Regions from separate parts of the Homo sapiens genome. Here all the other regions are linked to region 3. Evidence: fine-mapped expression QTL. A gene starts in region 3. Each other region holds a variant in brackets. All regions are shown on one strand. Distances are from middle to middle.

What was found. PIP is the estimated chance that this variant, and not a neighbour inherited with it, causes the effect.
Region 1: its variant is fine-mapped to the expression of SLC30A4 in blood mononuclear cells (TOPMed, PIP above 0.99).
Region 2: its variant is fine-mapped to the expression of SLC30A4 in whole blood (TOPMed, PIP above 0.99).

Annotation. Positions count from the first base shown.
Region 1 is chr15:45,455,988-45,458,748 of GRCh38, forward strand. The region is part of intron 1 of SLC30A4-AS1 (SLC30A4 antisense RNA 1); the gene reads left to right. LOC124903483 (a long non-coding RNA gene) reads right to left here and starts at 521. Exons shown (of 4, transcript XR_007064616.1): 1 at 452-521. RefSeq lists an enhancer at 727-776. The variant A/C (reference allele first, on the strand shown) is at 1,305.
Region 2 is chr15:45,218,122-45,220,882 of GRCh38, forward strand. No RefSeq gene overlaps it. Among named protein-coding and RNA genes, the nearest start is that of TRH-GTG1-9, 18 kb to the left of the region's middle. The variant T/C (reference allele first, on the strand shown) is at 1,662.
Region 3 is chr15:45,521,127-45,523,887 of GRCh38, forward strand. It overlaps SLC30A4 (solute carrier family 30 member 4), which reads right to left and starts at 1,629. Exons shown (of 8, transcript NM_013309.6): 1 at 1,481-1,629; 2 at 838-1,342. The coding sequence starts at 1,228. It also overlaps the pseudogene HMGN2P46. RefSeq lists a silencer at 1,332-1,821.

The DNA of each region.
Region 1 (2,761 bases), 65 kb before region 3:
AGCAAGACTGTCCCAAAAACAAAAACAAAAACAAAACTTATTTTCTCATGAGTTGTTATAATTTAATTTTTAAAATGATGACAATTTAATAACTGCTTTGCAAAATTTCTGAAAATTCCACAATTAGCTCTTGCAAGCAGTACAAACTCAATCCAGCAAACCATTAGCACCAGGAAGAAAGGAAGAGGCACCAAACCCCAGACTCCAAGAGATGCATTCACAGGGCTGTGTACCCTCTCCCAGCATCCATCTGTCACCCTCCCTCTGTCTGGACACCATCAGTCTGGGCAGCAGGTTGTGGGCAGCAGGCCTCAGAATCCCTGTGTGGGGTCAGCCCCAGTGAGAGCAGAGCCTGGCCCCAGGCAGCCCCTCCCACTCAGCAGACCCGCTCTTTCGCGGCCTGGACCTGGGGACCTGGTGCGGGCCCAGAACCCAGCCCCCGGACACCTACCCTGGCAGGCCTAGAGCAAGGAAGTTTCATGGCGCAATGTTCTTCCCCTTGAAGGTGTGAAGCCCTGTGAGGGCTGGAATTTCCACATTGCTCAGATAGTGGGCTTGCTCAGTCCTCCGCAGTGAAGAAAACAAAAGAGAACAAGTGGCCACGGCCTCTTTCTAGGCATCTCTTTATTCCTCTGGGCTGCAAGGGGCCTGCATTGGGTCTGAACAGAGGTGAAACAGAGGAAAGCTTTGAGGGTGCAACTCAGCCTGGAGCCATTTCTGGACAGTGAGAATGAACAGCAGTGATGACGTCATTCACCACATTCCACATGCGCTCGTCTTTGCACTAGGCCTTGGAGGCATGAGGGTGGTGACTCATAGCGGTAAAAACCCTGTCTTGGCTACCTCAGGAAATGAGTGGAATCTGTGGCTTGACGTTCCTGTATTCTTGCTGATGAACCACTCACGATGTCCACGTAGTGGCTCCTGCCAGGCGCTTGTGAAAGTTGGAGAAAAGAGGTCGCCTTCCCACCATGCCCACAGTGTGCCTCGGCCCCTTGTTCATGGCCCTCGGCAGCAGATGCCTTTCCTTTCTCTCATGCGCACAGGCCAGGCCAGCCCAGCCCACCAAGCCCCCTCCCGAGCCCCCTCTTGGAGGAGCCTCCTCTACACGTAGGGCTCTCCCTGGGGGTCTTCCTTTGAGTGTGGGGTTTATGTGCACTGATTTCTAAGATCAAAAGGCTAAGACCTTGCCATCCATTCATTCATTCAGCAAGGGGGGCGGGGGTGCTGGGAGGAAGCAGGAGGACAGAAGTTTTAAGCAGTCACAAAATATAATGAATGAAAACAAAACCAAAAAGAGGACT[A/C]AGGGAAGGGAGGTGGAAAAATACCAAACCCCTGTTCTACCCTCTTCTGAGACCCTTCGCTGGCAGGTGCCCTTGTAAACAGTGAAACAGCCGTCCCAGGGCCTGCGAGGTAGTGCCACTGTCTTAATCGGTCCGCAGGTTACTTCTCAGAGGGTGTTTCCATGGATTCTACTGGGTCCTCACCTGTTTCTGGGCAACCTCACCCCAGCTTCCTGCCTTGTGATAAAGATCTTTTTATTTCTTTATTTTGAGCAGTCACTTTCCCCTAAAAGATTAATATGTTGTTCTCACCAAGAGGCCCAGCTCTAGCTATATACTACCTGTTTGTAGTGGTTGAAAGTTTAATATCTCTTTAGCATCCCTTACAAAATATTTTGGGAGGTTTAGTTTAAATTCAGGCACAGCCTGTGGAAGGCTCAGACGCAAGGCTAGGGCGCCATCTCCTGGTCGATTTTGAATATGACAAAATTGAACTTGGATTGAGACTCGTGTTAATAGAGGTGAAAATCAGCTGATTTAAGTTATAGGTGGAAAGGCGTGCGCAGAAACACATGTAACTAATAAAGCACTTTGTCAGAATCTATAAAGAACTCTTACAATTTAATATAAAAAATCTTAGCGATTGGGCTGTTAAAAAATCAGTAGAAAAATAAGCAAGAGGCTTAAAGGGGCAATTTCTAAAAGAGGATATCAAATGCACCATAAATATATGAAAGATGTTCAACTTTTTATTCTTCGAGACTACTGGTGGAGGACAAGGCGGAGGAAAGCCCAGGAAGCCTGTATACGCTGTAAAGACCCTTTCAGGTAATTCAGATTTTACCCACTAGAGGGCGTGCCACTCACTTTAGTTGTTTTAAATTTGCCCAAGGGAAATATGCAAAATAAAACCGCAATGAGATGCACTGCACTGCAGCCTGCCAAGTTGGCAAAAATGGGGGCAGCGGGTACTCTCATACACTGCTGGAGAAAGTGCAAATTGCTATACCTTTGAAAAATTGTTTGGCATTATCTAGAAAACAGTTAACGCATAGGCGTATTCTATGTCATAGCAACTTCACTTCTTGATATATGTTCAACAAAAATGTGAGTCCATGGACACTAAGAAGCATACAAGATTGCTTATAACAGCATTATTGGCAGGTAATAGCAAGAACTGGAAACAATTCAAATGCCCACGAAGAATAGGCTGGAAAAATAAATGGTAGTATATTGATGCAGTGGAATATCTAACGGAAAAACAGACAAGCCAACAGAATCTGCAGCTACAAACGGCAACAATATGGATGGATGGATTTTATGAACATAATGTTGAGCAAACGAAGCCAGGTATAAAATAATCATAATCATATATAAAGGTCAAAACAGAAAAAACATTTTATAGTGCTAGATGTCAGGATAATGGTACATTTAGTCCTAGAGAATGAAGGCAGAGATTGGGAATATATTTAAAATAA
Region 2 (2,761 bases), 300 kb before region 3:
TGGAGTGCAGTGGTGCTCGCTGCAGCCTCAACCTCCTGGGCTCATGTGATCCTCCTGCCTCAGCCCCCTAACTCCCCAGTAGCTGGGACTACAGGCGCTTGACACCACACCCAGCTAATTTTTGTGTATATATAAATTTTGTGTATACATATATATATTTGTGTGTGTGTGTGTGTGTATATATATATATATATATTTTGTGTGTGTGTGTAGAAATGGGGTTTTGCTATGTTGCCCAGGCTATAATTTTTTTTTTAATCATTCAAGGTCTATTTTATCTTTATAATGAAATTAAGTCTATATAGACCAAAGAAAGAAAACAAGGGATGAAATGATAACAATAATTTACATTTTGAGGTGTTTACTTTTTGCCAAGCCTGGTGTTGGGGATTTTACATTCATTACTTCCATTCATGTGCAACAACTGAGTACTCAGCATTGGACCAAGAGCTTTACATCTATCACAAGCTAATCCTCCAAGCACTTATCAGATAGGCATTATATTAAAGATCAGAAAACTGAGGCCCAGGGAAGCTAAACGCAAAGCAGATCTTGCTAAAGCAAGATCATATACCTCCTCTGTGACTTTCTTTGTGTGTGGGGGGGAAATTGTATACTGTTATTTGTTCAAGTAATTTTTTTTTTTTTAGATGAAGTCTTGCTCTGTCATCCAGGCTGGAGTGCAGTGGTGTGATCTTGGCTCACTGCAACCTCAGCCTCCCAGGTTTAAGCGATTCTCCTGCTTCAGCCTCCAGAGTAGCTGGGACTACAGGCTTGCACCACCATGCCCAGCTAATTTTTGTATTTTTAGTAGAGACGGAGTTTTGCCATGTTGGCCAGGGTGGTCTTGAACTCCTGACCTCAGGTGATCCGCCCGCCTCGGCCTCCCAAAGTGCTGGGATTACAGGCATAAGCCACCATGCCCGGCTGTCCTGCAGCTTGTTAAGATTCGTTTTTATTTTTAATTTTTAATTTTTTAAGTTTTAAAATATTTTTTCTTTTAAAAAATAAGAGAAAAGGTCTCACTATGTTGTCCAGGCTGGTCTCAAATTCCTGGGCTCAAGCGATCTGCCCACCTTGGCCTCCCAAAGTGCTGGGATTATAGGCATGAGCCGCTGTGCCCAGCTGGTTGTTGAGGTTTGATTCATTTTCCTTTTTCTCTCTACACTGCGTTTTGGATAGTTTATATTGCTATATCTTCAAGTTCACAGTTAATCCCACCCAGTCTAATTTTTTTATATCGGATATTATATTTTTAATCTCTAGAAGTTCCATTTATATCTTTTTATATTGTGTTTCTCTCATTATGTTTATGTTTTCTTTTACATTTTTTTTTCTTTTTGACACAAGGGCTTACTCTGTTACCCAGGCTGGGAGTAGTGGTGTGTTCAGGGCTCACTACAGCCTCAACCTCCTGGGCTCAACTGATCCTCCCCACTCAGTCTCCCAAGTAGCTGGGACTACAGGCACATGTCACTGTGCCCAGCTAATTTAAAAATTTTTGGTAGAAATGGAGTCTCATTAAGTTGCCCAGGCTAGTCTCAAACTCCTGGGCTCAAGCATTCCTCCCACCTTGACCTCCAAAAGTGCTGAGATTACAGGCATAAGCCACCGTGTCTGGCCGCCTTTTACATTCTTAAGAATATTTATAATATTTATGT[T/C]AGCTGTCTTAAGGTTCTTGTCTGCTAATTCCATCTTCTTATAGTTTTGAGATTTATACTGATTGATTTTCCTTTTGATTATGGGTTATATTTTTCTACTTCTTTGCATATTTGGTAATTATTTTCTTGTATGCCAGACTCCATGAGTTTTACATCATTAGGTGTTGATATTGTGGTATTTCTTTAGAGTGTTGACATTATTCTGGCATGTGGTTAAAATTACTTGATGTTGCTGGGCATGGTGGCTCATGCCTGTAATCCCAGCATTTTGGGAGGCTGAGGCAGGTGGATCACGAGGTCAGAAGTTCGAGACCAGCCTGGCCAACATGGTGAAACCCTGTCTCTACTAAAAATACAAAAATTAGCGTGGCATGGTGGTGCACATCTGTAATCTCAGTCACTAGGGAGGCTGAGGCAGGAGACTCGCTTGAACCCGGAGGCAGAGGTTGCAGTGAGCCAAGACATGCCACTGCACTCCAACCGGGGTGACAGAGTGAGACTCTGGTTCAAAAAAAAAAATTACTTGGGGTTAGTTTCAAACTTTCAGGGCTTACTAACCAAAGCATGATCCTTCTGGCTAGTAGTAACACAAACTACTCACAGCCCTGTGTGAGCTCCAGAAATTGTTTAGTTTACTACATTCTGGTGGTCCTTTACCCGGCTTCATGGTGATTCACTGGATGTATACATAAGTTACTTCTCAGCCAAAGACTCAAAAAGATTCCTCTGCAGATTTCTGGTGTTCTCTGTCTTTGTAAACTGGCCAATCCCAGGGCTCACCTCATTTGTTCTCTTTCTCTCAGAGATCATAGTTATATGTTGCCTGTTGTCCAATGTCTGAAAGCCACTGTTTCATATATTTTATCCAGTTTTCTAATTTTCCAGAAAGAGAATTATTGTAAGTTAATTTTTGACAGGTGAAAATGTTAAGTCTGTTGACAGATTTTTCATGACTTCTTCAATTTAATTAACAGTAATAGGATTTGGGGGACTTTCAATTTCTTCTTGAGCCAGATGTAGTAAGTTACTTTCCTAGAAATTGGTCTTTTTCTTCAAGTTTTTAAATGCTGTTGATAGAATTATCTTATTAACTTTTAAAC
Region 3 (2,761 bases):
ACATGTAAGAATCATCTCCCTGCTTTTATGTCACTTTGTAAACTGTCACTGAGAAGTTAGTAGTTATACTGACGTGATTGAAAATAACCTCTAAACTAAGAATGTATCTTATATTGAGAACGGATTGTTCGTATAATTAAAAAATGAACAAGAAAACCAGGCTCATAGAACTTTGGCGGAGTCCTCTGGTTCATTTCAGGCCCTTCTTACGAGGCAAAAATTTCATGTTAGTTGGTAATTAATTTTGCAAATCTCTTGGCTATAAATACAAAAGGAAATCGTATAAAAGAAACCACTTAGGTCAAATGTAGAGGAAAAAAATGCTGGGACTGTAGATGTGGCTCTTCCATTAACTCCCTAAGTGGCCCTCACGACTTATTCCACTGGTTTGTGCCCTGGAAATCCTTACATGTAAAAAAAAAAAGGAGGTGGAGCAGGTGTTCAGTAAGGTCCCTTCATACTGTAAAATTCTATGATCTTAAGTTATTTACGATCATTTACTATTTTAAACGTTGCGAAAATTAACCTGGTATTTTACCAGACCTTTGTAAAAAGAGGAAGTTACATGACATACAATGAAGATAACGTCCTTAACTTTACGGTAGATGACAGTGGTTGAACAACTAGAAGAGAAAGTCAAAGTTATCTCGGGGAGTTTATATTGTACTTAGATTGAGCTGCACTTTGGAACCGTGTGGCCTTTTCACATGAGATCAGTGTCTTGATAAATACAAACTTCCTGAAAAGATGGGTTAAACCTCAAAGCCTGTGTAACTACAGCTTGACAAAGACTCTCGAGGAAAGGTAAACGGAAAGTGAGTTGGCAACACAACTCACCTACAAGTTCTCCAATCATGAAAAGCAAGTACAGAACGGCAGCAATGGTCAACCTGGCTTTCACCTTTCTCTGCTTCAGTATCTCTCTCTGTTTGCTGCAGTTGTCACAGGAGTCCACCTTCAAACTCAGCTGACTGTTGGTCAAAGGTAAGTCTTGGTCCAGTAAGGAATCATCGTCGGCCTGGAGGGTCGGGTGCGCCCCGTTAACAGGCCTTTCCGGGGCTTCGGAACCGTCATCGGCCACCACAACTCGAAGTTTGTTGAACCGAGAAAGCCCCTCGTCCCCCGCCTCATCCGAGAAGTCAAAGGCGCTGGTGTCATTTAAAAACAGCGGCGCATCATCCTTCCTTAGCATAGATTTGAGGCGCTTCCACGCGCCAGAGCCGGCCATGGCAGAGGCTGAGCGGCCGCGGTGCGGAACGGCTTGGGGGAGGCGGACGGCCGGCGGCGCCTACTTCACCGGAGCGCCAGTTCTCGAGGGCAGTGCCGCGCGTCCCTCCCCATCCTGTGGAAAACGAAACACGTTATAAATTAAAGGCGCCCAACCCTGTCCTCAAGTTCCGAAGCCGCTGGCGGCGGGTCGCAGGGCCGACCCCGACGCTCCGCCGGGGCTCCGCGAGGGGGCGGCACATCTATTTAATACCTGGGGCGCTGCCGCGGGGCCGCAACTCATCTCCCCGCCCCCGGCCGGCTCAGCGAGGCGGGCTCGCGCTGCTCCACCCGCGGCCGCAGGAGAGTGGGGTCGTGCTCGCGCCCGCCGCGCCCGCTGCTGGAGGCCGGCTCCCCAGGTCTGACAGGTTCGGGGCCGGACGCCCACAGCCACCGCCTCTCCCCGCCCTGCGCGAGGCCACGCGCGTGCGCCGGGCGAGGCGCGCGAGGGAGGGGTCGGCGCGAGGACACGCAGGCCTGGCGCGCAGGGCTGGGGCGCCCGCGATGGGCGGGGGCGCGCGGCGCGCCCCGCCTCTCGCCCCGAGGCTGGATTGGGGGCCACTGCGCCGCCTCCGCCCAGGGGTCACTCACTGGCCAACTGAGGGGACTTTGGGCGGCCTCTTCCACCTTCCCAGGCTGGGAGGCAAGTGCGGTCGGAGGGTCACGCCGGGGGCTGGGCGTTGCTGCTAGGAGTTCCCTCCACCGAAAGTGTGTCTCAGGAATCTCGGGTCGGGATCTGGGTTGCGGGTGCTCGGCAGAAGACAAACCCAGCACTTTTCTTGCTAACTGAAAAGGCAAGCAGCTTTTCTCTCCTCGAATTGCTTGTCTCTGGCAAATTGGCAACATTTGCTGCAGTCAACTGGAGAGGGCAAGGCTGTCGTCGTCAGCAGTTCTGTGTCCTACTGTTTTTCAGCAAATATGTATTGTCCTCTTTGTGCTCTCTGCCGTGTTCCTTTTGCCTCCAAGGTATTTACGATATGGACTAAACTCAAGCATAGAAAATCTAGTACAGGCATACCTTGGAGATACTGCGAATTTGGTTCCAGACCACCGCAATATGACAAAGTGAGGTCTCACAAATGTTTCATGTCCCAGTGCAAATACAATCATGTTTATAATGTAGTCTATTAAGCGTGTAATAGCGTTATGTCTAAAACAATGTGCATACCTTAATTTAAAATATTGGGAGAGAGGAAGGAAAAAGTATATATACATTTGTTAATTGCTCTGAGGAAGGAGGGTCGCATGAGCCCAGAGGTTCGAGATTACAGTGAGCTATGATTGTGCCTCCGCACCCCTGCCTGGCGACAGAGTGAGACCTTGTCTCTAAAAATAAACAAGTAAATAAAATACATGACTGCTAAAAAAATGCTATCAGCTGGGCGTGGTGGCTCACGCCTGTAATACCGGCCCTTTGGGAAGCCGAGGCGGGCGGATCACCTGAGATGGGGAGTTCAAGACCAGCCTGACCAAAATGGAGAAACCCTGTCTCTAC